Homo sapiens: one gene and its partners. The protein of the gene in region 5 interacts with the protein of the main gene of each other region in a biochemical or structural test. Each region holds a gene or a part of one and is shown on either strand. Other genes may lie near its edges. The genes, in order: MAGI3, MAST2, CARD11, RHOA, RTKN, GRID2IP and LDB3.

Region 1 (4,380 bases), on a different chromosome or scaffold from region 5:
AAAGGGCATATTTTTTGCCATAATTTGGTACAAACCATCGTTAATAATAACCACAACACACTGCAGTCATGTCCATATTTATAAGGTCTCTTTCTGGCTGAAAATTCACATGGTTTTAAGAATATGTTTTTTTCTTTTTTTTTTTCAAAATGCATAGTTAGAATGTATTAGCTAAAATGTCTCCAATAATACCAAACTACTATGAAACTTCTTCATGATTCTTTCCAGGGAAGAGCGTAGGTTGTATAACATCACAATTTTACTGTAAGTAGTTACATTTGGCCTCCAACACAACCAAATTGAGGCAGTACTGCATTACAATCTATATGCATTCTAAATGCCTGGTATTTACCAAAGGAGGCAGGCCTTTACTTTGAATGTTGCAATAAAAAATACAGTGCCTCATTTTTAAGAGTGATGTAAATATTCATCCAATTAACAACATTTATTAATGTCCACTTTGTACCAGACAGGCACTCTTTTAGGTGCCGAGCTTACAGCAGATAACTACACAAATAAAAATTCATACCTTCATGAGGCTTATATTCTTGTGCTACAGAGTTGTATTTTTTTAATTTTAAAGTGGAAAGAATTCACTTATAAGAATTTCTATTTAATTATTCATAAAGCTACTGGCGAGAAACTATAAGAGATATTCATATCCTAATGCTATGGTTTAAACCCTGATCTCTGAATTAAACTGCAACTTTTAATCCAGGCCCTACCTCTTACCAGTTATTTGTTTCTCAACCTTTCTCTGAGTAATCATAGAACTAGATAATGACCTCATAGTGTTGTGAAGATTAAATAAAATAATCCATGCATCTAGGACATAGTAAGCACTCAATAAATGTTAAATTATACTAAAACTTCTCAAGTAGAAACATCCTACTTTCCTTTAGTAGCTCAGATTTCACTGGGATCCAAAAATCTTTGTATATTCAGCTAGTGGGATATCTTGGTATGACTAAATAATTTTGTATTTGTTATTTAAAAAAAAACAAAACAAATTTAGGCTGGGCACAGTGGCTCACGCCTGTAATTCCAGCACTTTGGGAGTCTGAGACAGGTGGATCACTTGAGGTCAAGAGTTCGAGACCAGCCTGGCCAATGTGGTGAAACCCCGTCTCTACTAAAAATACAAAAATTAGCCGTGTGGTGGTGTGTGCCTGTAATCCCAGCTACTCAGGAGGCTGAGGCAGGAGAATCGCTTGAACCCAAGAGGTGGAGGTTGCAGTGAGCTGAGCTCATACCACTGCACTCTAGCCTGGGTGACAGAGTGAGACTCTACCTCAACTCAACAAAACAAAACAAAACCGGATTTAAATCAATACTCCCACCTATAATACATTTGCAAAATGCATCAATATATGAAAATAATCTTAATATAGAAGCCCAAAATTTATTTTTTTATAGTAGTATTATTTCTGAATCCTTTTGTGTTTGCATAGCCTTCCACAGTGAGGCCCTGGATCACACCAAATGGGTTATCTTAGATACTACTGAATGTAATAAAATAACCTGCAAAACTACACAGGAAGTAGACTAGTATCTTTGTTTCTTTTTTAACTTTTCAGAGCAGGAACAAGTTCACACACCTCCATAGAAGATCTTCCGTCTGACAGTTAGTAACACATGGCCATTTCGAGCAGCAGTTGTCATGAGGTCCAAGACTTGTTTGTGTGATTTCCCTTTAACAGGAATTCCATCAATGCACATTAGTTCATCAGCTGCGCGGAGCCGACCATCTTTCTCAGCTGCTCCCAGGGGAATAATAGCCCCAATATATATCTGATAAGATAACAAAGTACAGTTTGGTCCACAGTGTAAAGTTTAGCTGAAGAGTTAAGGAATTCCTAACTTAGCATTGTGCAAACCAACAGATTTTTGCAGTTCAACTATGAAAACAGTTATATTTTAGAAAGGTATTATCTGAGAAAGTGCCCATTCTCCAAAATGGCACTTCAAATAACCACATTGTATTATGTAATCCCTTATAGATCCTCAGGGCTGTGTACAAAGAAAATAGAAAATACAAAGTTGTTCGATAACTCAAAAAGCACAACCATTATCCCTATCATTACAATGAAACAAAACACTAAACTCAGAAAATATAAATCTGCAGAGTAGCTATTAAAAGTCTGTTCAATGTCATCAGGCAAGATTTTCTACATACTGTTCACAGCAACTGGGATCATTCTCAACAGTACTCCCATCACATATGACTAACGGTACAAGTTCAATATACACAGCACAGAGACATTTCTTGTTTCTAAATCTCAGCGGGAACAGAGTGGCCTGAAGCTTCACTTGCATCTAGGTGAACAAATCTGGTTCATTTTGCTCACCAGCATTAGAATCCTGTAATTAGGCAATCCTGAATGTTTAGGCTAGTTTCAGAGCTGCTAAAATCTGACATTTAAGAGAAAAGAAAGGTTTCTTCTAAGTTGTTTGAGACAAATTCTTAAAATGTCTAAGTGAACATTATGAGTATCAACAAAATAGGAAGCAATAAAACAAAAATACAAATACCAAGAACAATTAAAGTATCTAGTATTTGTTCTACATAGGGCAACCTGCCTTAAGCTTTATGTGTCTCCAATGACTGTTGTAACTGTAACCAATATGACCAATTAGAACAAATTTATACTACATAAATCAAATGTTCTATTCAGAAATAAGAAGCCTGTAATTTTTAAAGATTATTGTTCTTCACCTAACTTCCAACCATATTTTTTGATATATAATATATTGATATTATATAAAATAAAATGCAAATATGTTCTTAAAAATGCTACAGAACACATTACTTCTTTGTTATTCAAACCAAGAGCAAAACTTAGAAACAAAACCCACTACATTTGTTCTCTAAAACAAGTTTATGTGAGAATCATGTGTAAACAAAATCCTAGACTTCAAATGCTTTGCAAATATAACCCTTATGCCTCTGGACAAAAATATTAATTATTTTATATTCCTCTAGTTTCAAAGGTAACAGATGAAATGACATGCAAAGTACTGAGCATGAAAATGCCAACCTATTAATAAGACGAGGTGAAACAATATGCACAGGCTCATGCCAACCATTTATGGAGCATCCAGAAGATAGAGTAATAGTGGGAAAGAGGACATGGGATTATAGGCTTCTTAGAGAAGGAAAATGTCTTAGACTCTGTTTAATGAGGGCAAAGGAAAATATAAACTTAAAATAAGCTTTATGTAGTTATTCACACAGAGAAGTAAATAAATTAATCACTGTCTAATTTGCAGCTGACATATTCAGTTTTTACCCACAGTTTTTAGCCTCAGCTACACCACAATAACTGAGGGACTATGATAATAATGGAAATGCAGTTATTCTTCATATTAATGAAACTGTCAGAGAAAAAAAAACTTAAAACACACCATAATCCACCAAATCACCACTCAAAACGTTTGAACAGGAAACAGCCATGTTCCAAAGAAGTGACACTTACAGACTGGTCAGGTCCATCTCCTCCTAGCACCCTGAAGCCAAACCCTGACTCTTGTTTTCGAAGAAAAACATCCAAATCTTTGGTGTTTGGTGCTGAGGAAAATCAGAAAATATAAATACTATGATTTATTTTAAAAGGATTAAAACAAAACAAAGTTCAGTATTTAGTAGGATATTATAGAGTAACTCAATAAACTATAATCTCAGAACTTTTTAATATGGAAAATTTGCACAAGAGTGTAACACACACACACAATTCAACTATAAATCCTCGTTTTGAGCTCTAAACAAAACTGTATGAAGACTGTTTAGAAACATTTACTCTCACTTCCATATACTCAGTATTACACTGCCATTAACTTCTAATGCTGTCCAATCAATATAACAATGTTGAATTCAGAATGATCAAACTTGAGTTTGATATTTGACAGGTGCAAATGACCTAAGTTAACACTTGGGTAAGGTACATTAAATCTGTACAGGCACTGCTGTATAGAGTGCCTGTAAAATACCTTATTCCTGCTCTCAAGCTAATACCTTTCTCTCAGAAAAGTATTCCATATGAACTACTTACCTAGCCTAGTTTTGCAAAATGATAGCATTTTAAAGGAAAATAATTAAGAGCTAACATTTATTATTAGCCCCATTTTCTAGGTGGGAAAACTGAGGGTGTAAGTAAGTTGGCCATTGTCACATAGCAAGTGGTGAAGCTAAGATTTAAATCCAGGTTGATTTCCAGGGTCTAATCTCCTAACTCATACTGTCCTACCCTCAAAGGGTAGGTTGTATTCCTTAGAATATTAAGCAGGAGGATTGCTTGAACCTGGGAGGCAGAGGTTGCAGTGAACTGAGATCGTGCCACTGCATTCCAGCCTGGGCAACAGAGCAAGACTCCATCTCAAAAA
Region 2 (4,380 bases), on a different chromosome or scaffold from region 5:
CCATGACCCTGTCACAGCCTACCTTCCAGGCTTACCCCTCAGCACTTCTTCAAACCCACCCTGTGCCCCACTGAATGCTCCTTCCCATGCTCCCGATCTGGGAAACTTAGACTCATCCTTCAGTTTGCTGAATAAGCCTCACGTCCCCCAGGGAGCATTCACTGAATGTTCCTTCCAGGGAAGACTAAAGCACTTCCTTTTCCAGGTTCCCGTTACGCTGTGTACTGACCTCAACTGCAACACTTCTTGCAGTATTGTAATTACTATTTACATGTCCTCATGCCTCATGCTTCCCAACTCCACTGTAGAGGAAACATCCCAAGATCAGAGACTGTGCTTTATTCATGTCTGTATCTCCAGTGTCTAGCAGGAAGTAGGTACTCAGTCAAGTATTGCTGAAGATAAAATGAAGGACTCAACTTGTACAAACTAAACTGGGCTATGCTCCTGACGCTTCTCACCCCCAAGACCCCCACTGATGTGAGCCCTGCTCATGTGGGGGTGGCCTAGACTAATAATTCTCCCTGCCGCATCCCCTCAGGACCATACATTTGTCCTCACAAAAACCTGTTTAGTCCCCCAATGGTGGCAAATCATATTTAAATAAGGACCTAAGCAACAGAAATGGCAGTGGTTACCACCACAGTTTTGCTGTCATCAGGATACTTCCTCTATAGTCCTCCTCTAAATCTGCCCACCTGACTTTCCTAGAGTCCACTCACCAGGCATTCCAGGAGACGTGCTGGGCGGGCAATGATAATCATCAGCTTTTTCACCAGCTGCATCACAAAAGCCACTTCTGAGCTCTCTGAGCGCTCATGAGCCTATAGAGAAAAGAAGCGTTGCTTAATCTATTGGCCCAGTGTGGCTGGGCTAAGCAGGACCAGACAGGGCAGAGCTGACTCCAGGGAGAAACAATTCGGTAGCATAGAGAGCTCCGCAAAGCAAGGAACTCAGAGAAGGCTGGCTGGCTGTGAGAGGGAGCGAGTTGCTCATAGGGAACCATTTCTGCTTTAGAACACTACATGACACCAAGAAATGCCACACAGACATACAGCTGTACCTGCTCCTCCATCCAACAAGCCTCACTTACCCTCCAGACCCTAGCTCAAGGGGCAGCTCTCAATGGTGCCTTCACTGATGTTCACTTTCCACCCTAGACTGTAAGGAGTAGAAAGACCTCAAAGCTGAGGAGTCATATGACCAGAAAGTACTTCAGAAGGATCACTCTGGCTGCAGTGTAGAGAGTACACTAAAGAGGGCAAGGCTAAATGCAGGAAAACCCATTAGCAGGCAACTCTAATAATTCAGATGAAAAAGGCATAGGTCAAGGCAGAAGAATGCAGACAAGGGGATAGACGTGGGTTACTACAGAAGCAGATAAGGGGTGAAAGAAGCACGACAGAAGGCAACTACAACTTCAATTTTAGGAAAATTACAATGAATAAGTGAAATAGTAACTATAAGAAGCCATTTAGGTGATAGGTAAAGAATGTACTGCATTTGGTTTTAGAGAAAGAACAGCTAGGCAGAAAAGATAAGCTCAGTTCTGGGCGTGCAGTTTCAGGCACCTATATGAGAGTCTCTTGGGTATCTGCTTGGCCGATGGGCCTTTCTCTTTTTTCCTGAGAACTGCTCTGGTTTCTAGGAGCCACATTTGTACTGTGTGTCTGTACCTTCCCTCCCACCTCTAATAGCTGACCAGAGAGGATCACTTTCCTAGGAATTTAAAAAAGGATAGAAAGACAACTGTTAACGTCAGTGTGGCAGAACCGTTTAAGAACTGTGAAAAGAGATGCATACCTACCATGGAAATAGAGGAAAAGATGCATACAGAAAAAGGAAGAATGAAGACTTCCTGAGCTTCCTGGAGCTTCTGGTTTCTAGTTCTGGTTCCTTCTTAAGGCCTGGTTATATCCCTCGCTTCAATTCTCTAAGACCTACTCCTTTTACTCTTATAATGTTTCCCTTTACTGTTTAAACTATTCTGAATCAGTTTCTATTACGTGCAACCAAAGAATAAGAACCAATATAGGGAAGTCAAAGTGGAGGAGTCCAGCAGGCAGCTGGGTGCACTGATCTGAAGCTCAGGAGAACAGTAAGAGTGGCAGCCACATGTGGGAGTCCTCAGCGTAGAGATGACAACTGAAGACATGGGAGCAGGTGGCAAGACATCAGAGAGAGAGTGGAGGAAAGAGAAAGGGGAGACCAGGCATGCCGGATGGTGCCCTGTGACACACCAGTAGGAAGAGGTGGGCAGCAAAGGAACTTGTGAAGAGGCAGCAAGAGTGGTGAGAACAGTGAATTGACAACTGGGGAAGGAAGTTTAGGAAGTATTCACTGTGCTCCACCGAGAGGTGGCAGAAGATGGGAACTGAAAGTGGCCACAGGATTTGGCAATTGGCCAGTGAGTTCCTTGGTGAATTTTGCCTGAACAGTTTTGGTAGACTGGTGGGAAGGGAAACTGGAAGGCAGAAGATTGAGTAGTAAATAGGATACAAGGAAAGAAAAACAGTAAATGCTATTGTGAATAGTGCCGCAATAAACATACGTGTGCATGTGTCTTTATAGCAGCATGATTTATAGTCCTTTGGGTATATACCCAGTAATGGGATGGCTGGGTCAAATGGTATTTCTAGTTCTAGATCCCTGAGGAATCGCCCCACTGACTTCCACAATGGTTGAACTAGTTTACAGTCCCACCAACAGTATAAAAGTGTTCCTATTTCTCCACATCCTCTCCAGCACCTGTTGTTTCCTGACTTTTTAATGATTGCCATTCTAACTGGTGTGAGATGGTATCTCATTGTGGTTTTGATTTGCATTTCTCTGATGGCCAGTGATGGTGAGCATTTTTTCATGTGTTTTTTGGCTGCATAAATGTCTTCTTTTGAGAAGTGTCTGCTCATGTCCTTCGCCCACTTTTTGATGGGGTTGTTTTTTTCTTGTAAATTTGAGTTCATTGTAGATTCTGGATATTAGCCCTTTGTCAGATGAGTAGGTTGCGAAAATTTTCTCCCATTTTGTAGGTTGCCTGTTCCCTCTGATGGTAGTTTCTTTTGCTGTGCAGCAGCTCTTTCGTTTAATTAGATCCCATTTGTCAATTTTGGCTTTTGTTGCCATTGCTTTTGGTGCTTTAGACATGAAGTCCTTGCCCAAGCCTATGTCCTGAATGGTAATGCCTAGGTTTTCTTCTAGGGTTTTTATGGTTTTAGGTCTAACGTTTAAGTCTTTAATCCATCTTGAATTAATTTTTATATAAGGTGTACGGAAGGGATCCAATTTCAGCTTTCTACATATGGCTAGCCAGTTTTCTCAGCACCATTTATTAAATAGGGAATCCTTTCCCCATTGCTTATTTTTCTCAGGTTTGTCAAAGATCAGATAGTTGTAGATATGCAGCGTTATTTCTGAGGGCTCTGTTCTGTTCCATTGATCTATATCTCTGTTTTGGTACCAGTACCATGCTGTTTTGGTTACTGTAGCCTTGTAGTATAGTTTGAAGTCAGGTAGCATGATGCCTCCAGCTTTGTTCTTTTGGCTTAGGATTGACTTGGCGATGCGGGCTCTTTTTTGGTTCCATATGAACTTTAAAGTAGTTTTTTCTAATTCTGTGAAGAAAGTCATTGGTAGCTTGATGGGGATGGTGTTGAATCTATAAAAATTACCTTGGGCAGTATGGCCATTTTCACGATATTGATTCTTCCTACCCATGAGCATGGAATGCTCTTCCATTTGTTTGTATCCTATTTCACTGAGCAGTGGTTTGTAGTTCTCCTTGAAGAGGTCCTTCACGTCCCTTGTAAGTTGGATTCCTAGGTATTTTATTCTCTTTGAAGCAATTGTGAATGGGAGTTCACTCATGATTTGGCTGTTTGTCTGTTATTGGTGTATAAGAATGCTTGTGATTTTTGTACATTGATTTTGTATCCTGAGACTTTGCTGAAGTTGCTTATCAGCTTAAGGAGATTTTGGGCTGAGACAATGGGGTTTTCTAGATATACAATCATGTCATCTGGAAACAGGGACAATTTGACTTCCTCTTTTCCTAATTGAATACCCTTTATTTCCTTCTCCTGCCTCATTGCCCTGGCCAGAACTTCCAAAACTATGTTGAATAGGAGTGGTCAGAGAGGGCATCCCTGTCTTGTGGCAGTTTTCAAAGGGAATGCTTCCAGTTTTTGCCCATTCAATTCAGTATGATATTGGCTGTGGGTTTGTCATAGATAGCTCTTATTATTTTGAGATACATCCCATCAATACCTAATTTACTGAGAGTTTTTAGCATGAAGGGTTGTTGAATTTTGTCAAAGGCCTTTTCTGCATCTATTGAGATAATCATGTGGTTTTTGTCTTTGGTTCTGTTTATATGCTGGATTA
Region 3 (4,380 bases), on a different chromosome or scaffold from region 5:
AGTTCTATATGTCATAGATTCACAGCTTAAGAACCATGCCACTACTGAGGACACACACACACACACACACACACACAGACACACACACACACACGCCCCTCCTCTTAGAGTCCAGATGTTCCCAATGGCAAAAGCACTTACCCACAATGGTGGAGAATCTCCGAGTGGGCTCTTTCCCAGTCACCAGTTTGTACAGTTCTGGGTAATAAAATTCTAGGCTCTCCAAGAAGACCACATAGCCCCTTTGCCCCTTGGTATGTAGAATGTCCAACAGCCGGCCTAGGGGAAAGACCAGATCACTCTGTGAGAATACATATCTGATGGAACGCAAGTCTCTGTGGCTGGTCTCATCCTGGACTTGTGTCCTTCAATCAACTCTAAGAAGACAGTCTCCCCACATTCTATCACTTCTGAGTTGTATCTTGGAGCCCAGATGACGTAAATCAAGGTGCCAGGCCCTCCGCAGGGATTTGGTGAGCGTTAGTTTTCTGTTTCTAATAAACTGGTAGAACCAGGATAAATGGAATTGCCGCCCCAGTTTTGAAGAGTTTCCCAACTGACCAGGGCCAAAATGAACCACGTAGGCACCAGGTCTTCTATGACTGAAGGAGGTTGGAAGCACGATAAAAATTATGGAATAATATATGGTTCTCTGGGATTGAGAGCAGGAAGACAAATCTTTGGGTGAGAGGCTAGGAAAAATCATAGGAAGTAGGGATAGTTCTAGGTTTTTCTTTGGGATTATTACACAACCTGGAAACACCTTAAATGTAATTTCCCCAGCAGGTCCCAGTTTCTATACTATTGATTCCACTTATTGCTTACATTTCTGGGCCCTTCCTTAAACATTTTATTTTCAGATATTCTTCTGAGATATAGAAGAAGAAAGGTAGGTCTTAAAACTCGACCTTTTCCCTAGGACGGACAGAAGAAATAAATTTGATGGTATGTCAACCCCGATTGTTTGGTGAAGCCGCCTGCAGTACTGTTTCGAGAAACATTCCAAAGTTACATCCAAGCTCAGTGGGAAAGCATGCTGATTACTGATGTCTGCCATGGATGCCAGAGAGTCGCAGCTGATGAGCCACTTACCACCAGCCACGCTGGGGGACAGTGATTATCAAACCTTCTAAACTGATCCATAGAAAGAAAAACATTTAACATTGTGGTCTAGTGACCATAGACAAAGATAACTCTACAAGTACATGTGTATACACATGTACATAATGTAAAATTAAAACAAGCTTCACAAACCATATTTATTACCTTTACTGAATATGATAAACCCCCCCTCCAGAAGTCAGGCTAGAAAAGCTTGTGGAACCCTTCTCGGAATATTTTTAAACAGATAAAGTACATCAGATTACAAAAGAAACCAATTATAATAAAATCCAGTTATCAAATATTAAATAAATTTGTGTTTCAGTAACATACTTCTTTATTAATGCATTAAATAACAAGACCTCTCGGCAGGTCTAATAAGTACTGTAATTTTGAAAGAGAGATGAGTGTAAGTGGCATTTTGAGAGATTTGCAGTAACTGTAGTGATAGGAAGAGATCTGTAATTTTCATTGTTGCCTAAGTCACAAGAATTACTAATCACTCCTGTAATTTGTGGCTTCCTGACATTTGCAATTGAGGGCAATGCTGAATTGCAGTTGAGGTTGGTAAAATAAAGATGGCATTTCTTCCCCCCTCCCAGTTTATGGATCCTTTGAGTTCCATACACAGACAGCTTGAGTTCTATACACAAATGAGTAGGTGATGGACTGCGGACCCCAGTTTAAAAATCCCTGACCTAGAGCAACTTCATTTTGGTACAGCTACCAAAGGGTATGTCTGGAAGTTGCCGTGTGCGGTAGCCCTCCCTCTCCCGCAAAGAGGTCCTAAGGTTACCTGCTCGGTTGATCTTGGATGGCAGCATAGGGGCATTAAGCACTTCATCTTCATCCTGCTCATCAATGACCTTACACTGACGCAGGTAGGGCGTGAGCTTGGCAGGGTTGATATAGCGGCTGAGCATGTGCCGGTTACACTCCACATTCTCCCACAAGGCGTCCTCTTCATCCTTCAGCGTCTCCATGTAGTCATCCATCTCTGGCCCTCCTCCTTTTAGACATAAACCCCAACAAGCTTAATAAAGCAGTCTCACTGGAACAGCTCTATCAACTCCTCTGGAGTGACCTCTAGAATATATTAAGTTAAAAAAAAGTCCTGTACACTAAAGTATATATAGCATTTTACCTTTTGTCTAAGAAAGGGGTTATGAATATAAAAATATATATTTCCTTATATGCTAAACATAAACAATGGAAGTTTAAGCCATCAATTTTAAAAAAGATTATTTATAGGGCAGAGAGGGAAAATCCTGCGGTTGAGTCTACCCTTTCCATCCAAGTTTTTATGTCTTACTAAAAATGTATAGTTCCCTAAACAATATATACTATTGGCTTTTGTTTTAAAATTTCACATAAATGGTGTCATACTGTACGTTTCCTTTTTCAGCATGTTTTTCTCCCTCTACATTTTTTTTTGAGATTTATCTAGATGGATACATATAGATCTAAGTCATTCGTTTTTAAAAATAGCTTTATTGTGATGTAATTCACATAGCATACAAGTTACCTTTTTAATATGTTCAATTCAATGATTTTAGTATATTCACAGAGCTGTGCAACCACCACCACAATCAATTTAAAATCATTTCCGTCATTTCAAAAAGAAGCTCCTCACCCTTTATTAGCCACTCTCAATTTCCCTCTAATCCCTGCTCCTCCAGCCCTGTGTAACCACTCGTTCACCTTCTGTCTGTATAGATTTGTCTTTTCCGTACATTTTATACAAGTGAAATCCTACAATTTATGGTCTTTCATGTCTGGCTTCTTTCACTCAGCAACTTTTCAAGGTTTGTTCCTGTTGTAGCATGTATCAGGACTTCACTTATTTTAAATTGCTCAGTGATTTTTTCATTGCATGGACATGCCCCATTTTGCTTGTCTGTTCATCCACTAATGGACATTTGAGTTATTTCTACCTTTTGTCTATTATGAACAATGCTGCTATGAACATTCATGTAAAAGTTTTTGTGTGACTGTATGTTTTTATTTCCCTTGGGTAGATACGTAAGAGTGGATTGTTAGGCCATATGGCAACTCTATATTTAACATTTTGAGGAATTGCCAAATTGTTTTCCAAAGCAGCTGCATCATTTTACATTGCCACCAACAAGCCATGAGGGTTTTAATTCCTCCATATTCTTGCTAACAACTTGTTATTGTCTGTCTTTTTTATTACAGCTCTCCTACTGAGTGTGAAGTAGCATCTCATTGTGGTTTTGATTTGCATTTCCCTAATGACTAACGATGTTGAGCATCTTTTCATGTGCATATTGGCCATTTGTGTGCATTGAGAAATGTCTATTCAAATCCTTTGCCCATTTTAAAATTGTGTTGTTTGTCTTTTTATTATTGGGTTGTAGGATTTTGTTATGTATTCTGGATGCAAGCCACTTATCAGATATATGACTTGCAAATATTTTCTCCCACTCTGTCAGTTGTCTTTTCACTTTCTTAAAAGCATTGTTTGTAGCACAAAAGTTTCAAATTTTGAGGTAGTCCAATTTATTTATTTTTTCTTTTTTTCACTTGTGCTCTTGGCATGTATCCGAAACACCATTGTCTAACTCAAGATGATGAAGACTTACTCCTGTTTTTTGCCTTTGAATATTATACCTTAGTTCTTACATTGAGGATGATCCATTTTGAGTTAATTTTTGTGTATGGTGTGAGGTAGGGGTCCAGTTGCATTCTTTTATGTGTGGATGTCCAGTTGTCCAAGCACAGTTTGTTTGAAAAGACTACTCTTTCCCCATTGAATGATCTTGCTACCCTTGTTGACAATCAACTGACCATAAAAGTAAACATTTGTTTTTGCACTATTGATTCTATTCCATTGATCTATATGTGTATCCTTATGCCAGTACTACATTGTCTTGATTACCGAAGATTTGTAGATTTGTAGTAGGCCTTGAAATTGGGAGTATGGGTCTCCCAACCTTGTTCTTTTTCAAGATTGTTTTGGCTATTAGGTGCCTTTTACCTAATTTTAGGATTAGGATGTCAATTTCTGCAAAAAAGGCAGTTGGCATTTTGGTAGTGAATCTGCTGAATATGTAGATCAATTTGGAGAGTACTGCTACCTAACAATATTAAATCTTCTGATCTATGAACAGGGGGATGTCTTTCTTTAAATCTTCTTTAATTTCTTTCAGCAATGTTTCATAGTTCTCAGTGTACAAGTCTTGCACTTCTTTTGTTAAATATATTCCTAAGTATTTCATTAATTTGATGACATTATAAATGGGAGTTTTTTTCTTAATT
Region 4 (4,380 bases), on a different chromosome or scaffold from region 5:
TGTCACAGCACTGCAGGCCTGGGAGACAAAGTACAATCCCTGTCTCTTTATTTAAGAGAAAAAAAAAAAAGTATGAGAGGCCAAGCAAAGCATTACTTAGACAACAAAAGGAAGCAGAAGATTAAAAAAAAAAACAAAAACAAACCAAAACCAAAATTAAAACCCAAAAAAACCCTCCAATTTCACAAGAGCTTTGTTCCAGTCTTGCCAGAGGGCTTTTAGGACAGAAATGGGGAAGCACTGTTCTCACCATCAATGACAATAAAATAAAACAACTGTGGCAGGCTATTTTATGTTAAAGTAAAAAAAAATCTTTTGGCCGGGCACAGTGGCTCATGCCTGTAATCCCAGCACTTTGGGAGGCCGAGACGGGCAGATCACAAGATCAGGAGATCGAGACCATCCTGGCTAACACGGTGAAACCCCGTCTCTACTAAAAATACAAAAAATTAGCCAGTCTGGTGGTGGACACCTGTAGTCCCAGCTACTTGGGAGGATGAGGCAGGAGAACAGCGTGAACCCAGGAGGCAGAGCTTGAACTAGTAATCTAATACTGGGACATCTGATTAAATACTTTGACAGAATTTTTGTCAAAGTCCAAGCATACAAAGAAGTTCATCTGAGCATTATCTATATGGCAATGAACTAAACTTCAAATATACGTAAACTTGAAAAGAGCACATATGGCTGGGCAAGGTGGCTCACGCCTGTAATCCCAGCACTTTGGGAGGCTGAGGCAGGTGGATCATCTGAGGTCAGGAGCTTGAGACCAGCCTGGCCAACATGGCAAAATTGCATCTTTACAAAATACAAGTATTAGCCAGGCATGGCGGCGTGCGCCTGTAATCCCAGCTACTCTACTCTGGAGGCTGAGGCAAAAGAATTGCTTGAACCCGGGAGGTGGAGGTTGCAGCGAGCTGAGATTGTACCACTGCACTCCAGCCTGGGCGACAGAGCGAGACTCTGTCTCAAACAACAAAACAAAACAAAAAAAAAACACATATGCTAAGGACACCATGTCAAATACATATGAATGTAAACAAAGTCTGGATGAGTAGCAGTTAAAAATGAAAAAACAGCCAATCACCTGCGGTCAGGAGTTCATGACCAGCCTGGCCAACGTAGTGAAACCCCATTTCTACTAAAAATACAAAAATCAGCCAGGTGTGGTGGCATATTCCCGTAATCCCAGCTACTGGGGAGGCTGAGGCAGGAGAATCCTTTAAACCTGGGGGAAGGCTGGGCACAGTGGCTCACTCCTGTAATCCCAGCACTTTGGGAGGCTGAGGTGGGTGGATCACCCGAGGTCAGAAGTTTGAGACCAGCCTGGTGAAACCCCATCTCTACTAAACGAAAAATGAGCTCAGCATGGTGGCAACATGCCTGTAATCCCTGCTATTTGGGAGGCTGAGGCAGGAGAATCACTTGAACCTGGGAGGCAGAGGTTGCAGTGAGCCAAGACCGAGCCACTGCACTCTAGCCTGGGCAACAGAATGAGACTCCGTCTCCAAAAAAAAAAAAAGAACAAACTTGGACTAAGATGGCAGGATGAGAATGGATTCTTCTTTCCAACATTTTTGTTATATGGTATACTGAAGAGGCAAAAAGCTCTAATTCTCTACATGCTCCATAAATATTCTAACATGGAAAATGGCATCAGTTGTTATGAAAAGTATACTCACCTGCTTTCCATCCACCTCGATATCTGCCACATAGTTCTCAAACACTGTGGGCACATACACCTCTGGGAACTGGTCCTTGCTGAAGACTATGAGCAAGCATGTCTTTCCACAGGCTCCATCACCAACAATCACCAGTTTCTTCCGGATGGCAGCCATTGCTGAAACACAAAACACAGATATTACCTGCAATGCACAAGAAGTCATAGGTAGCTTACAGGATGACACATGCTTTGGTAACCATGGGGCATAAACCTCTATTAGCATACTCAAATTCAAACTTCTAGTACGCCGATCCACCTGGCACCAAAAGGTTATACATTAAAAACTCGTAACTAACATTATACTTAATGGTAAAAGACTGAAAAAAAGGTCTGCCCCCTAAGATCAGGAACAAGACAAGAATGTCTGTTCTTGCCACTTCTTTTTTTTTTTGAGACGGAGTCTCACTCTGTCGCCCAGGCTGGAGTGCACTGGCCCAATCTCAGTTCACTGCAACCTCCAGCCTCCCGGGTTCAAGCAATTCTCCTGCCTCAGACTCCCAAGTAGCTGGGATTACAGGCACGTACCACCACATCCAGCTAATTTTTGATAGAGATGGGGTTTCACCTTGTTGGCCAGGCTGGTCTTGAACTCCTGACCTCAGGTGATCCACCTGCCTCAGCCTCCCAAAGTGCTGGGATTACAGGCGTGAGCCACCACGCCTGGCCTGTTCTTGCTACTTCTATCCAGCAGGATACTGGAGGTCCTAGCCAGGGCAATAAGGTAAGAAAATGAAATAAAAGACATCCAAATTGGAAAGGAAGAAGTAAAACTATCTCAATTCACACATGAGATGATTTTGTAATGTGGGAAATCCTAAAGAAAACTTTTAGAATAAACAAGTTCAGTAAGGTTGCAGGATACAATATTAACATTAAAAAATCAATTGAGCCAGGCGCAGTGGCTCACGCCTATAATCCCAGCACTTTGGGAGGCCGAGGCGGGTGGATCACGAGGTCAGGAGATCGAGACCATCCTGGCTAACACGGAGAAACCCCATCTCTACTAAAAATACAAATAACTAGCCGGGCATGGTGGCAGGCACCTGTAGTCCCAGCTACTTGGGAGGCTGAGGCAGGAGAATGGCGTGAACCCAGGAGACAGAGCTTGCAGTGAGCCAAGATCGGGCCACTGCACACCAGCCTGGGGGACAGAGTAAGACTCCATCTCACAAAAAAAAAAAAAAAAAAAAAGGAAACAATTTGTCAAGCAGGGTAAAAACAATGAAAGGACTGATGAAAGGGAGTACCCAAGGGAGGAAAGAACCAAAAAAGTCATCGGCAGGTTGTTTGGGTAGACATTCTGCAATCTTTCTAAGTTTGGATATTCCTTCTTTTACCAATCTAGATTTGTTTGTAAAGAAACAGCATTCTTGGCTGGGCGCGGTGGCTCACGCCTATAATCCCAGCATTTTGGGAGGCCGAGGCAGGCAGATCACCTGAGGTCAGGAGTTTGAGACCAGCCTGGCCAACATGGAGAAACCCCATCTCTACCAAAAATACAAAATTAGCCAGGCGTGGTGGCACATGCCTATAATCCTAGCTACACAGGAGCAAGAGGCAGGAGAATCGCTTGAACCCGGGAGGCAGAGGTTGTGGTGAGCCGAGATCATGCCATTGCACTCCAGCCTGGGCAACAAGAGCGAAACTCCGTCTCAAAAAAGAAAAATCAATTGAGGCCGAGCACAGTGGTTCATGTCTGTAATCCCAACACTTTGGGAGACTGAAGCAGGAGGAATGCTCAGGCCCAGGAGTTAAGAGACCAGCCCTGACAACATAGTGAGACACTGAGAAAGGAAGGACGGACGGAAGCATGAGAGGGGAGGGGAGAAAGAAAAGGGCCGGGCGCAGTGGCTCACGCCTATAATCCCAGCAATCTGGGAGGCCGAAACAGGTGGACTGCTTGAGAGTCCAGGAGTTCAAGACGAGCCTGGGAAACATAGTGAAACCCTGTCTCTACTAAAAATACAAAAAATTAGCCAGGAGCGGTGGTGCATGCTAATCACAGTTACTTGGGAGGCTCAGGTGGGATAATCCCCTGAGCCCTGGAGGTGGAAGCTGCAGTGAGCTGAGATTGCATCACTACACTCCAGCCTGGGGAACCCCAGTGAGACACTGTCTCTAAAAAAAGAAGGAAAAGAAAAAAAAAAAAATCAGCCAGTTGTGGTAGCATGCACCTGTAGTCCCAGCTACCAAGGAGGCTGAGGTGGGAGGATTGCTTGAGCCCAGGAGGTGGAGGATGTGGTGAGCTATGATTGCATCACTGCACTCCAGCCTGGGTGACAGAGTGGAACCTTGTCTCAAACTCTTATGACTCAACTACAAAAAAGCAGCTTAGGTTGGTGGTCTGGCTCAGGATCTCTTGCAAGGTTGAAATCATAAAGAACTCTTTTTGGGCTGGGCACGGTAGCTCACACCTGTAATCCCAGCACTTTGGGAGGCTGAGGCAAGCAGAACACTTGAGGTCAGGAGTTCGAGACCAGCCTGACCAACCCAGCAAAACCCCGTTTCTACAAAAAATTCAAAACTTAGCCGGGTGTGGTGGTGGGCACCTGTAATCCCAGTTACTCGGGAGACTGAGGCAGGAGAATCGCTTGAACCCAGGAGGCAGAAGTTGCAGTGAGCCCAGATTGTACCACTGCACTCCAGCCTGGGCAACA
Region 5 (4,380 bases):
CCACCTTCCTTCCCTCCCTGCCCATCATCAGGACTCACCATGTGTCCCTTTCCTGAAGCGACTGCCAGTTCATCTGTACTTACTCATAATGCCACTAAAGTAATTACTGACTTAGTAGAGCCTTAAGCTAAATGATGTGGCACTAATGGCAATGTGTTTAGCTGCCAGGCACTTGGGGTGTACCTCAAATCACCTGTGTGGGCTGTGTGAGGACTTTGGCAGGACAGAGTCTGTCCATGCTGCCTCTCAGAGGCTGTCCCCCCACCAGCTTGCCCTTCCTCTAGCTTCATGGGATAGCCATACAGTGGGTTTTCTGCCTTCTTCTGGTAGCTTCATGGGTGAGCTCCTGGCAACCTCCTCTTGTGTCAGCCTTCATGGCTGGAATGGGCACCATACCTGTGAGGGGCTGGGACTATTTCCCCTAGCAGCCTCAGTGGAGTAAGTAGGCCACTTTCCTAAAAACCAGTTCTCCAAATGACCACTTTATCCAAATTGGCATATTCTTAGAATAATTTGCCAAATATTTTCCCCAATATTTTGGTTTTATCATGGCATCACTTAAGTCATTATAGACTTGTCAGATCAACAGTCTAATGTCAGTGTTGCTTACATTTTACATCCAGAAGCTGAGCCCTTTTAGAATGCACAATCTAATTTGTTTGAATGGGTAGGCTTTCCTTAAGTGGTTTCTTATTTCCTTTCCCACTCCCTGCCTCTGAAGGTGAACCCCAGATATAACAAACTATTGTCAGTATGTGGTAAATTGGTGATTTTGTGAACCAGCGTTGAGGAAATTAATTTTCCAAAAGCCAGATAGCCAGTCTTACTGGATCACAGACAGGGCTTAGCAAATTAGTGCTTTTGCATTACTTGCTACCCTTCAGATCAGCTACCTTTCACCAGACACACCGACTTTTCTAAGTCCTGCCCTGGCTACTCACAAATGCGCCTCTGGGCAACACACAGTGGTGGTAAAACACCAAGGTCTCTCCCAGGTCCCTGATAAGACTTCATGGGGAAGTCATCTTTAAGGTGGTCCACATGCCACACACGCACATGCTGCACCACCACCACCCAGAAGGCCTCCTGCCTCCATCGAGGCCTCGTCTCCCCCTTGCTCACCGCCGGCTTGTCTTCCCCAGCACCTGCGCCTCCTTGCGCCGCTGCAGCTCGCCCATGTAGCTGAGGATGCGGCTGTTGCACACTAGCAGGCTCTTGGTGGCCTCCAGAGCCTGCTCTCGCTGGGAGCAGGCTGCCAGCAGCTTACAGGCCCCTTCCCTCATCCGGATCTCATGGTCTAGCTTCCTCTGCAACTCCGTGTCCTAGCCAGGGTTGGGGGAAGGGTGAGAAGGAAATGTCAGTCAGTGGACAGGCTAAAGCACTCCCCAGTCCCCAGGTGGGCTGTGGCCAGTAAAACTGACAAGAAACTAATGTTTTAGGCAGTTCAAGAGCAGGCATTGGGTCTCAATCTCAGCTGCCCACGAATAACCAGAGAAGCTTTGTAGCCAGGTGCAGTGGTGTGTGAGGGAGGCTGAGGTGGGAGGATCCCTTGAGCCTAGGAGATCAAGGCCAGCCTGGGCAACATAGTGAGACCCCACCTCTAAAAAAATATATAACAGCCGGGCACGGTGGCTCACGCCTGTAATCCCAGCACTTTGGGAGGCAGAGGCAGGCGGATCACAAGGCCAGGAGATCGAGACCATCCCGGCTAACACGGTGAAACCCCGTCTCTACTAAAAATACAAAAAATTAGCAGGGCGTGGTGGCGGGCGCCTGTAGTCCCAGCTACTTGGGAGGCTGAGGCAGGAGAATGGCATGAACCCGGGAGGCGGAGCTTGCAGTGAGCCGAGACTGCACCACTGCACCCCAGCCTGGACGACAGAGCAAGACTCTGGCTCAAAAAAAAAAAAAACATATATATATATATATAAAACAAATAAGAAAAATAGAGATGCCCTCATGCATTTGATGGTTGGAAGTATAAATTCCTTCAGCCTCTTTTGAGTGCAATTTGGAAAAAAATCTATGAAAACTACAAATTCATATATCCTTTAATTCAGCTATCCAATACCTAGCAGTTTATCTTACACATATAATTTCACATATATCTAGGTAAAGCCATACATACAAAAATATTCAGTGCGGCATTTTTTTTTTTTTTTGAGACGGAGTCTCGCTCTGTTGCCCAAGCTGGAGTGCAGTGGTACGATCTCAGTTCACTGCAAGCTCCACCTCCTGGGGTTCATGCCATTCTCCTGCCTCAGCCTCCCAAGTAGCTGGGACTACAGGCGCCCGCCACCACATCCGGCTAATTGTTTTTTTGTATTTTTAGTAGAGACGGGGTTTCACAGTGTTAACCGGGATGGTCTCGATCTCCTGACCTTGTGATCCGCCCACCTCGGCCTCCCAAAGTGCTGGGATTACAGGCGTGAGCCACCGCGCCCGGCCTCATTGTGGCATTGTTTTAAACACCAAAATTAAAACCCCTTCAGTAGGACATTGGTTAAATAAGTAACAGTACATCTGTACCCTGTAGTATTGCAGACATTAAGGAAAGAGATATGCACATGTATGCAGATATGAAACAATCTCCAAAATAAATGATGTGAGAAAAGAAGGGTAGTATTGCACATACTACCATTTGTGCATGATATATATATATGTATGCATGCATATATATACATAGATATAGATATGCATGTTTATGCATAAAATATTAGTGATTGTAGGCCTGGGAGCCAGGGATGGAAAACATTTATGATACTTTTTTTTTTTTGAGACCGAGTCTCACTCTGTCACCCAAGCTGGAGTACAGTGGCGCGATCTCAGCTCACTGCAACTTCCACCTTCCAGGTTCAAGTGATTCTTGTGCCTCAGCCTCCTGAGTAGCTGAGATTACAGGCATGTGCCACCACGCCCGAGTAAGTTTTGTATTCTTTTTTTTTTTTTTTTTTGAGACCGAGTCTTACTCTGTTGCCCAGGCTGGAGTGAAGTGGCATGATCTCGGCTCACTGCAAACTCCGCCTCCCAGGTTCAAGCAATTCTTCTGCCTAGCCTCCGGAGTAGCTGGGATTACAGGTGTGAGCCACCACACCCAGCTAATTTTTGTATTTTTAGTAGAGACGGGGTTGCACCATGTTGGCCAGGCTGGTCTCAAACTCCCGACCTCAGGTGATCCACCCGCCTTGGCCTCCCAAAGTGCTGGGATTGCAGGTGTGAGACACCATGCCTGGCCTAACTTTTGTATTCTTAGTAGAGACAGGGTTTCGCCATGTTGGCCAGACTAGTCTCGAACTCCTGGCCTCAAGTGATCCTCCCACCTCGGCCTCCCAAAGTGCGGGATTACAGGCTTGAGCCACTGCGCCCAGCCTAATGATACTTTATATATACCCTTTGTACTACTGGAAATTGTATTTCCTTTAAAAAATATTAGATCTTTGGAGTTTAAAAAAAAATGATCAGGCCCTACCTAAGATTTGCAGAATAAGAATCTCTAGGAGTGGGGCATATGTACTTTTGGAAAACTCCCCAAGTGATTCTGAGGTACACCCAGGTTGAGAACCACCAACTCATGGGAATGGACAGAAGGAAAGGCAAATGAGAGTTATCCCTCAGACTCAAGTGATGCCAGGGACATCTAGTTGGCAAGGGATCAGTGGACAAGGAGCATACCACCTACAGTGTTCACTGACGCTGCACAGAAACCTATACACCCCAAATTAAGAGAATCACCACCTACCGGCCCTCTGAGCTTGGGAGATGAGGTCAGAGGCAAGGAATGGGGATGGGAAGGTAGGTGGTCCAGGAATGAGGGACTGTGGATAAGGGCCAGCTGAGAGGCCCTGGAAGAGACACCAGGATTCTCAGGAACATTCATTTAGAAAGGAGCCCTGGAGGTCCTGCTTCTTAAAAAGCAATGGGCAATTTGCTCAACCTCCCTAAGCCTCAGTTTCCCCATCTGTAAATCAGGAATGGAAATAGTCCTAGGGCTGTGAGAATTCTGTGAGGCAGGAACTTAAAGCACTTAGCACAGTGCCCAGCATGTGGTATACATTAATGGCAGGGATGCTTATTTTAATGACGCTATACTTTGGTGGTAGCAGCATTTACTCAGTCAACACTGGAGCATCCCTGTACTGTCCAAGGTTGTACATTTAAAATCCAGCTGGGAGGTGAGAGATGATGACTTTAATGGCTGCTCCATAAGTGCCATGTCATGGCACAACCATGCTCACAAGAAACAGCCTCTGTTTGCTTCTGGCTGAGGTGATCAAGGAAAGCTTCAGAGAGGAGTTGGAAGACTAACTCTATCACAGTGTACAGATTGGTTCAGGAGACAAGTCGAGCCATCCATTTGAAACAGGGGAACTAATGTGACCA
Region 6 (4,380 bases), on a different chromosome or scaffold from region 5:
TCCTGCCTCACCCTCCTGAGTAGCTGGGATTACAGGCACCCGCCACCACAACCAGCTAATGTTTTGTGTTTTTAGTAGAGACAGGGTTTCTCCATGTTGGCCAGGCAGTCTCGAGCTCCTGACCTCAGGTGATCCACCCGCCTCAGCCTCCCAATGTGCTGGGTTTACAGGTGTGAGCCACTGTGCCCGGCCTGCATGGTTTTCAGTATATCTACTTCTCCATTCCCTGCAGCTTATATAAATGTTCAAGTCTCTCTCAGGCTATAAATAAATAAATAACAAGCTGGGCACAGCAGCTCATGCCTATAATCCCAGAGCTTTGGGAGGACAAGGCGGGAGGATCACTTGAGGCCAGGAGTTGGAGACCAGCCTGGGCAACATAACCAGACCCTGTCTCTAAAAAATGAAAGACAGCCGGGCGCGGTGGCTCATGCCTGTAATCCCAGCACTTTGGGAGGCCGAGGCAGGCGGATCACAAGGTCAGGAGATCGAGACCATCCCAACTGACACGGTGAAACCCCGTCTCTACTAAAAATAGAAAAAAAATTAGCCAGGTGGGCGTGATGGCGGGCGCCTGTAGTCCCAGCTACTCGGGAGGCTGAGGCAGGAGAATGGTGTGAACCCGGGAGGCGGAGCTTGCAGTAAGCCGAGATCGCGCCACTGCACTCCAGCCTGGGTGACAGAGACAGACTCCATCTCAAAAGAAAAAAAAGAAAGAAAAGAAAAAGTAAAAAGTTAGCCAGATATGGTGGTGCACGCTTGTATTCCCAGCTACCAGATACTTGGGAGGCCGAGGTAGGAGGATCTCTTGTGCCCGGGAAATCAAGGCTGCAGTAAGCCATGATCACACCACTGAGCTCCAGCCTGGGTGACAGATCAAGACCCTGTCTCCATAAATAAATAAATAAAAGACAATCCTCCTTTGATCCTGAAAGCTGCTCATTCTCCTCCCTTCTGTAGTCTGGAGCCGTCTACACGTGCTGTTTCTGTACCACTGCCCTTTGCCACTGCAGTTCACTATTGCACTTGAGGCTCTCCACGACCCAGCTCTGGCGAAGAACCCCAGACAGTGACTCTCAGACCTCGATCTTCAGCCGAGAGCTCGCTCTTGAACTCTGGAACTGTATATCCACCCGCTTTCTAGATGATTCCAAAAGGGGAGGAGAAGTAGCGGGAAGCTTCGAGGGTTTCCAGTCAGAGGCCACGTTCTGTACACGTCTGAATCCTAGCACAGATGCACCATGAGTCTGTGTAACCGTCTGTCTCCCCCACCCAGGTGTGATGATCCGGGGTCTCATGCTTGTCCAGCCCCAAGCACAGCGCCTGGCACATATTAGGCACTCAGAGAATGTGGATGGGACTGAATCAAAAAGCAGCCTTGCATTGCACTTCCTGCAGGCCCCAGCTCACCACTGTTTCCCTCCCTGTGAGTGGGCCAGGCTGGCAGCACCAGCCGCCCCCTCCCCACGCACGCGCCGTGCTGGGGAAGGTTGCCAGTTTGGAAATCAAAGTCAGCAGCAACCTCAATTCAAAGGAGAACATGGCTGGCTGCAGAGATGTTTTATGTAAGAAAGAGGAAAAAATAGTTCCTCCCTCCTGGGGCCCGTGCTACAGTGCGGTTTCGGTGTCAGTTATTACCCAGATGTTCTCAGCCTACATCTAAGCATGAGGTATCATCACGGGACACTAATGGATTTTCTATTAAATATCAGCCACTTCAAGGAGGAAAAACTGGGGCAGGCAGAAAGCGCAGGCGAGAACTGGAGGGCTGGTGATTGAAAACCAACCAGTCTGGCGCAGTGGCTCATGCCTGTAATCCCAGCACTTTGGAAGGCAGAGGCAGGTGGATCACCTGAGGTCAGGAGTTTGCGACTAGCTTGACCAACATGGTGAAACCCCATCTCTACTTGAACTCCTGACCTCAGGTGACCTGCCTGCCTCGGCCTCCCAAAGTGCTGGGATTACAGGTGTGAGCCACCGTGCCCAGCCAAGCCACCAAGCCTGGCCTGTCTCTACTAAAAAAAATACAAAATTAGCCGGGCGTGGTGGTACATGCCTGTAATCCCAGCTTCTTGGGAGGCTGAGGCAGGAGAATTGCTTGAACCCAGGAGGCGGAGGTTGCAGTGAGCCAAGATCACGCCATTGCACTCCAGCCTGGGCAACAAGAGCGAAACTCTGTCTCAAAAAAAAAAAAAAAAAGATAGAAAACCAACTGGGCTCCACGGAGGCCCTTCATCTTCCAGAGGAAGTCATTTTTGGAGATTCACTCTCAGCTTTTGTGGGTGCCCAGCGAGCCCTAACCAAAATCCTCCACTTCCCCGTTCCTCCTTGCCAGAAAACACACTGCAGCTGGCCTGGGCAGCCTGTCGGATTCTACCCTCAGCGGGTTGCTGCCCAGCCCTGCTCCTGGGCAGGTCTTCTCTTGCATCCTGCCCTGTTTGGAGCTCTGAACGTGCCCCCTTCCAACTCTGCAGGGATTAGATGGAGTCTGGGATAGACCTTTGGCTCCATGGCAGGTGATCTGGGATTGTAGCAGGCATTACTCGCACTCACCAATATTTCTAGGTCTTCCCTCTTTCCTGGACACACATTAGACTACATTTCCCAGCATCCTTAGGGAGGAGCAGTGTACCTAGTTCTGCCCAATGAGCATTGAGGACAGGTGCTGTTCTAAGAGGAGATGCACAATTTTCCAAGCTCTCTTCCTCTTCCATAGGGAACCCTGAAGCTTCACATAGAGATGGAGGAGTCTGAAATGCTGAGACCTCGTATGGACATCAAGCCACCCTAGAAAGTCTACTGACCCCCTAGAGGACTCTGTGGGTGAAAAGTAAACTTCTGTAGTGCAAACGCACTAAGTTGTTGATTTTGGGTCAGGCACAGTGGCTCACACCTATAATCCCAGCACTTTGGGAGGCTGAGGCAGGAGAATTGCTTGAGGCCAGGAGTTTGAGACTAGCCTGGGCAACATAGCAAGACCTCATCTCCCCAGTCTTTTTTTTTTTTCTTAATCAGCCAGGTGTGGTGGTGCACACCTGTGGTCCCAGCTACTAGAGAGGCTGAGGCAGGAGGATCACTTGAGCCCAGGAGTTGGAGGCTGTAGTGAGCTATGATTGTACCACTGCACTCCAATCTGGGCAACAGAGCTAGACCCTGTCTCAAAAACAACAACAATAAAAAATGTTGGGTTTGTTTGTTATAGCAGCAGAGCCTGTTGTGGGTACAGGAAGAAAGTCACAGCTTTGGAAGATCTGGACTTTGGTGATGTAGGGAAGCTGGAGTTGAGTCCTGTGTGTATGCGAGTGTGTGTATCTGGCCACAGAGGCTGGTCTACTCAGGGTCAGAAAAGCCCATTCAGGGGATCAGGCTAGGGTACATGATGGAGGAGACACTCCTGAGGGGGTTAATTTGGAAGGGGTTAGGACTGGACCAAGCTTGGGCACTGAAGGAGGCCAGAGTGGGTGGGGACCTGATGCCTGGGCAGTGGGCTGGGAGGCATTTCTGCAATAGTCAAACTCCGACAAAGTTTCCAGGCTCCCTGACCTCCCAAACCCCATGGCCAAGTGCTGCTGGGGCAGAACTGAGCAGATTCCCTTCCACGGAGGAAAAGTCTGTGAGCTTGATAACACAACAGGGTGACTATAGCCAATAATAACTTAATTGTCCATTTTAAAATAACTTAGGCCAGGTGCAGTAGCTCACACCTGTAATTCCAGCACTTTTGGAAGGCCGAGGTAGGCAGATCTCCTGAGGTCAGGAGTTCAAGACCAGCCTGGACAACATAGTGAAACCGTGTCTCTACTATAAATACAAAAATTAGCCAGGCATGGTGGTGGGGGCCTGTAATCCCAGCTCCTTGGGAGGCTGAGCCAGGAGAATTGCTTAAACCCGGGAGGCGGAGGTTGCAGTGAGCCGAGATCGTACCACTGTATTCCCTGGGCAACAGAGCGAGACTCTGGCTCCAAAAAAAATAAATACAAACTTAAACGGTGTAGATGGATTGTTTATAACTCAAAAGATAAATGCTTGAGGGGATGGGTACCCCATTCTCCATGACATGCTTATTTCACATTGCATGCCTGTATTAGAGTATCTCAGATACCCCATAAATATATACACGTATTAGGTACCCACAAAAATTAAAAATCAAAATAATGTAAAAAAAGTTGGCCAGATGCGGTGGCTCACGCCTGTAATCCCAGCACTCTGGGAGGCCGCAGCAGATGGATCACGAGGTCAGGAGTTCAAGACCAGCCTGACCAATATGGTGAAACCCCATCTCTACTAAGAATACAGAAAAAAAAAATAGCTGGCCATGGTGGGGTACGCCTGTAATCCCAGCTACGCGGGAGGCTGAGGCAGGAGAATCACTTGAACCCA
Region 7 (4,380 bases), on a different chromosome or scaffold from region 5:
CTTTAGCCTCCTGAGTAGCTGGGACTACAGGCACATGCCACCATGCCTGGCTAATTTTGTGTATTTTTAGTAGAGAGGGGATTTCACCATGTTGGCCAGACTGGTCTCAAACTCCTGACCTCAGGTGATTCACCCACCTTGGCCTCCCCAAGTTGTGGGAATACAGGCGTGAGCCACCACGCCTGGCTGATTTGGGAAAATTAAGACACCTCTACTATTTTTTTTTTAACCAGAGTGTCTCAAGGTAAATTTTGGAAATGTATGAAATATCTGTACAGTTTTTACTTGAATAATTTTTATAGACTTCTGACATAGGATGACCCTAGTCATAAAGTTTACGGCCATATACTTTTGGTTCCACACTTCGCTTCCATACCCCGCCATCTGTGGGACACACTGTATTCACTCTGTGTGTCGGTTTGCTAGGGCTGTCTTGACAAATTACTGCAAACTGATGGCTCAAACAACAGAAATGAATGCTTTCACAGTTCAGGAGGCCAGAAGTCCTAAATCAAGGTGCTGACAGGAGGCCATAGTCTCTCTCCGAGCTACTAGCGGTTGCTAGCAATCCTTGGCATTTCTTGGCTTGCAGCTGTGTAACTCCAATCCCTGCCTCCATTGTCACAAGCCTGTCTCCCCTCTGTGTGTGTCTTCACATGACATTCTCCTCTGAGTGTGTCTGTCTCTGTGTGGGTCTCCTTTTTTTTTTTATTTTTTTTTTGAGATGGAGTTTCCCTCTTGTTGCCCAGGCTGGGGTGCAATGGCGTGATCACAGCTCACGGCAAACTCTGCCTTCTTGCACGTGAATTTTGTGGAATACAATTCAACCCCTTAACACTCTGATTTTCTAGCTCTTTGAACAGATTCTCTAGTTGTCTTTTAGGGTGTTTTAAATACATCCCCTCCAAAAAGAGACAATGGTGTAAGTATACTGGCTTTGGGTTTGTCCCCTGCAGAGTCATAGCTCCCCTGTGTCAGGCACAGCACAGGGGTCTCTGAACCTTACATTCAAGCCATGGCTTGTCTAGTCCTGAGGCACTGCCTGCACATCTGGTTACCCAACTTCTGGAAGGATCCAAGAGACTTGGGGAAGGTCCAGGAAGACAGTGGCACAGAAGGCCTGTTTTCCATGGGCAGGCTGATGAGAGGTCTGTGTCACATGCAGAGGGAATCGTGGCAAAGGTGAGTGTGGGTCTGCTTCTGCAAGCCTCGCAATTTCAGCTGAGTCACAACAGCAAAAGTCCAAGAGAGAGACCAGAAGAAGGCGTAAAGCTTGGGGTGGCTAAGGCTGATATTACAAATAAGTTCCAGAGAGTGAAGTCCAGCCTGTGAGAGGCCCATAGCACTGCCCTTTAGAGGATCAACATGGAGATCGTTAGGTCTCCCTCCAAACCAGCCTGCATGATACTCACTGCTCTGTCAACATATAGCAAAGTGGAACATGGTTCTTTTGTTTTTTTTTTTTTTTGAGACAAAGTCTTGCTCTGTCGCCAGGCTGGAGTGCAGTGGTGCGATCTTGGCTCACTGCAACCTCCACCTCCCAGGTTCAAGCAATTCTCTGCCTCAGGCTCCTGAGTAGCTGGGATTATAGGCGCCTGCCACCACACCTGGCTAATTTTTGTATTTTTAGTAGAGACGGGGTTTCACCATCTTGGCCAGGCTGGTCTTGAACTCCTGACCTCATGAGCCACCCACCTCGGCCTCCCAAAGTGCTGGGATTACAGGTGTGAGCCACCACACCCAGCCGGAACATGGTCTTAACATTAGGAAGAAATCTTTTGATTGGAAAACTTTGAGGGACTTGAGGGATTTTTTTTTTTTTGGTCCTCTTTCTATCACTTCATATTTCCAAATCACTTTTGATGAGCATGTATTTTCCTGTAACTTCCAAAAAATTAGTAAGAGAAAGATCTGGGGTAGCTCTCCCAGCTGATGTGCTGTTTTCTAACCAGTGAGATCTCAGGATAGCACATTCTTTAGACTAACTCAGTTTACCAAATATTCCTGGCATTTGGGCAGTACAAGAGTGTTCCAGAACAAGTCTCTACCCTGACGGAATCTAGAATCTTGAAAGGTGAACAAAGCAACAGATGTGAGCAATTCAAAAGTAGAACAGGACAGTATCCCTCAAGTCCAAAGCATATAAAGTGAAGGCTGGGAGCCTGAGAAGTGCACTGTGGGTCAGGGTGAAAGTTAAGCTTCTGTCTGGCGTCGACACTTGAGTTCCAATGGAAAGGGTCCGACCTTAGTGGAGGAAAAATGTCTTACCCATCCCTCTTTTGCTCTAAGTCTTGCCCTTCCCCACTGGTGTGGGTATCAGGAGGGGATGGGCAGTAATATAACTTTTGTAGGCAGACCTAGGGGCTGCTGCAGCTGGCCTAGTTTATTACCCTAACTCTGCTGGGACTTGCAGTCAGCACTGTCCATGGTCGCTACCCTTTTATAGCCAGGCCCTGATGTCACCCAGCCACAGAGCCTGGGGGTTGGACCATCCCTGTTGCCCCCTGTGCTGGGTGGGCAGAAGGCCTCCTCCACTATGAAGCCACCTTGCACCAAGAAGACACTGGGCACAACTCCTTATGAGGGTTCCCACCCTCAGCCCCATCTCACCTATGAGCCATCTTTGAGGTTCTGTCCCTTTCTCATTTGTTGGTCTTCAGTCCCTGGACACCTTCTCTCCCCAGCCTGACTCATCCCAAAGTTCTCACAAGCAACCAGCATTGTCCCAGTCCAGGTATGGTCTCCCACCCACAGCTGCAGTCATTGACAGGCTGACTCATTCCAGAGATGCCTTTCTGTCTTCCCTAAAGCCCATTCTCACCAGTTAGATCTTGGATGTCCATCTTTTTGCATAGTCTTTAAATTGTCACCAGCAGCTTGAGGCCTCCACACGAGCCTGGTTATACTCAGCATCACTGCATCCACCTGGGATGTTTTCAAACACTTTTGCAGCTCATTGGCTCCCAGAACCCAATTGGAAGCCCTGTGTGATCCTAGGTATAACGTCCCCAACTGGACCATCAGAGCCTTGCACATGGGGCTAGCGTGGTGCCCTTTTCCTCTCCAACTCTCTTGGACTGAATACATGCATATTGCCCCAAGCTCAACTCAAGGGGGTGATTTCTCTGTCTCCATGGGGGATACCTGTATGTGGGGACTCCACGTGCACTCCTCTTGATGTCAGTGTCCTGGAGATGGCTCCCAATTCTGCCCCCCAGCAGGGATCTTCACTGCCCTCTCCTAAGCTGGGACCCATGCCAGCCAATGTGATTTCCTGGCAGACTCTGACCTACTGGCATATTGCCAACCCAGGGCCCAGCTTACATACTAGTAGTCCAGCAAACTCAGAGGGCTACATCTGTACAAACCCATGAACCCAGATCAATTTCAAGTAAACACAGTCCCTTTCTTCTATGGGGTAGGGGAAAAATTAGCATAGAACTGGAGTCTTACAGACATGGACAGAGATTCCCAGCCTACAACTTACTAGGTCTGTGACTTAAGGAAGACGTATGGGCCCTCTGAGCCCCAGTTTTTTCAGCTGTGAAGTGGGAGAAAGGCTTACCTACCTTATAAGGTTTTCATGAGAATTAAATGAGCTGCTGTATATAGAGTGTCTGGCATCCTGCTTGGTCCATGGTAGTCCCCACAAATATTAATTAGTTCTCTTCTTTCTGGGATGCCTCCAGCCTCAGACTATATGTTGTCATCATGGGGATATAGAATTTCATCTCTTGGGCTGGGCGTGGTGGCTCACGCCTGTAATCCCAGCACTTTGGGAGGCCAAAGCAGGTGGATTGCTTGGGGTCAGGAGTTTGAAACCAGCCTGGCCAACATGGTGAAACCCTGTCTCTACTAAACTACAAAAAAAATTAGCTGAGTATGGTGGTGGGCGCCTGTAATCCCAGCTACTAGGGAGGCTGAGGCAGGAGAATTGCTTGAACCCGGGAGGCAGAGGTTGCAGTGAGCTGAGATCGCGCCACTGCACTCCAGCCTGGGTGACAGAGTGAGACTCCATCTCAAAAAAAAAAAAAAGAATTTCATCTCTTTTGTTTTTTTGTATATTTCTCTGCATACTTTTCCATATCTACCTTTTTTTTTTTTTTTTTGAGACGGAATCTCGCTCTGTCGCCCAGGCTTGGGTACAGTGGCATGATCTCAGCTCACTGAAACCTCCGTCTTCCGGGTTCAAGTGATTCTCCTGCCTCAGCCTCCTGAGTAGCTGGGATTACCAGTGCGCACCACCACACCCGGCTAATTTTTGTATTTTTAGTAGAGACAAGGTTTCACCATGTTGGTCAGGCTGATCTCAAACTCCTGATCTCGTGGTCCTCCTGCCTCGGCCTTCCAAAATGCTGGGATTGCAGGCGTGAGCCACCA

The links.
Region 1: the proteins of RTKN (region 5) and MAGI3 interact in a test that uses a peptide from one of them, tested with the Homo sapiens proteins (one large-scale study listed by IntAct).
Region 2: the proteins of RTKN (region 5) and MAST2 interact in a test that uses a peptide from one of them, tested with the Homo sapiens proteins (one large-scale study listed by IntAct).
Region 3: the proteins of RTKN (region 5) and CARD11 interact in a test that uses a peptide from one of them, tested with the Homo sapiens proteins (one large-scale study listed by IntAct).
Region 4: the proteins of RTKN (region 5) and RHOA form a complex in vitro, tested with the Homo sapiens proteins (8 studies listed by BioGRID).
Region 6: the proteins of RTKN (region 5) and GRID2IP interact in a test that uses a peptide from one of them, tested with the Homo sapiens proteins (one large-scale study listed by IntAct).
Region 7: the proteins of RTKN (region 5) and LDB3 interact in a test that uses a peptide from one of them, tested with the Homo sapiens proteins (one large-scale study listed by IntAct).

The regions. Positions count from the first base shown.
Region 1 is NC_000001.11:113,648,425-113,652,804, reverse strand, and holds part of MAGI3 (membrane-associated guanylate kinase, WW and PDZ domain-containing protein 3), read right to left. Parts: intron 3,569-4,380; coding exon 3,477-3,568; intron 1,792-3,476; coding exon 1,599-1,791; intron 1-1,598.
Region 2 is NC_000001.11:46,016,040-46,020,419, reverse strand, and holds part of MAST2 (microtubule-associated serine/threonine-protein kinase 2), read right to left. Parts: intron 825-4,380; coding exon 723-824; intron 1-722. UniProt on the Homo sapiens protein: Appears to link the dystrophin/utrophin network with microtubule filaments via the syntrophins. Phosphorylation of DMD or UTRN may modulate their affinities for associated proteins. Functions in a multi-protein complex in spermatid maturation.
Region 3 is NC_000007.14:2,945,678-2,950,057, forward strand, and holds part of CARD11 (caspase recruitment domain-containing protein 11), read right to left. Parts: intron 2,111-4,380; coding exon 1,898-2,110; intron 1,411-1,897; exon of another isoform or gene 920-1,410; intron 280-919; coding exon 142-279; intron 1-141. UniProt on the Homo sapiens protein: Adapter protein that plays a key role in adaptive immune response by transducing the activation of NF-kappa-B downstream of T-cell receptor (TCR) and B-cell receptor (BCR) engagement.
Region 4 is NC_000003.12:49,373,752-49,378,131, forward strand, and holds part of RHOA (transforming protein RhoA isoform 1 precursor), read right to left. Parts: intron 1,841-4,380; 5' UTR 1,839-1,840; coding exon 1,683-1,838; intron 1-1,682. UniProt on the Homo sapiens protein: Small GTPase which cycles between an active GTP-bound and an inactive GDP-bound state.
Region 5 is NC_000002.12:74,431,345-74,435,724, forward strand, and holds part of RTKN (rhotekin), read right to left. Parts: intron 1,323-4,380; coding exon 1,123-1,322; intron 1-1,122. UniProt on the Homo sapiens protein: Mediates Rho signaling to activate NF-kappa-B and may confer increased resistance to apoptosis to cells in gastric tumorigenesis. May play a novel role in the organization of septin structures.
Region 6 is NC_000007.14:6,544,388-6,548,767, forward strand, and holds part of GRID2IP (delphilin), read right to left. Parts: intron 1-4,380.
Region 7 is NC_000010.11:86,727,134-86,731,513, forward strand, and holds part of LDB3 (LIM domain-binding protein 3), read left to right. Parts: intron 1-4,380. UniProt on the Homo sapiens protein: May function as an adapter in striated muscle to couple protein kinase C-mediated signaling via its LIM domains to the cytoskeleton.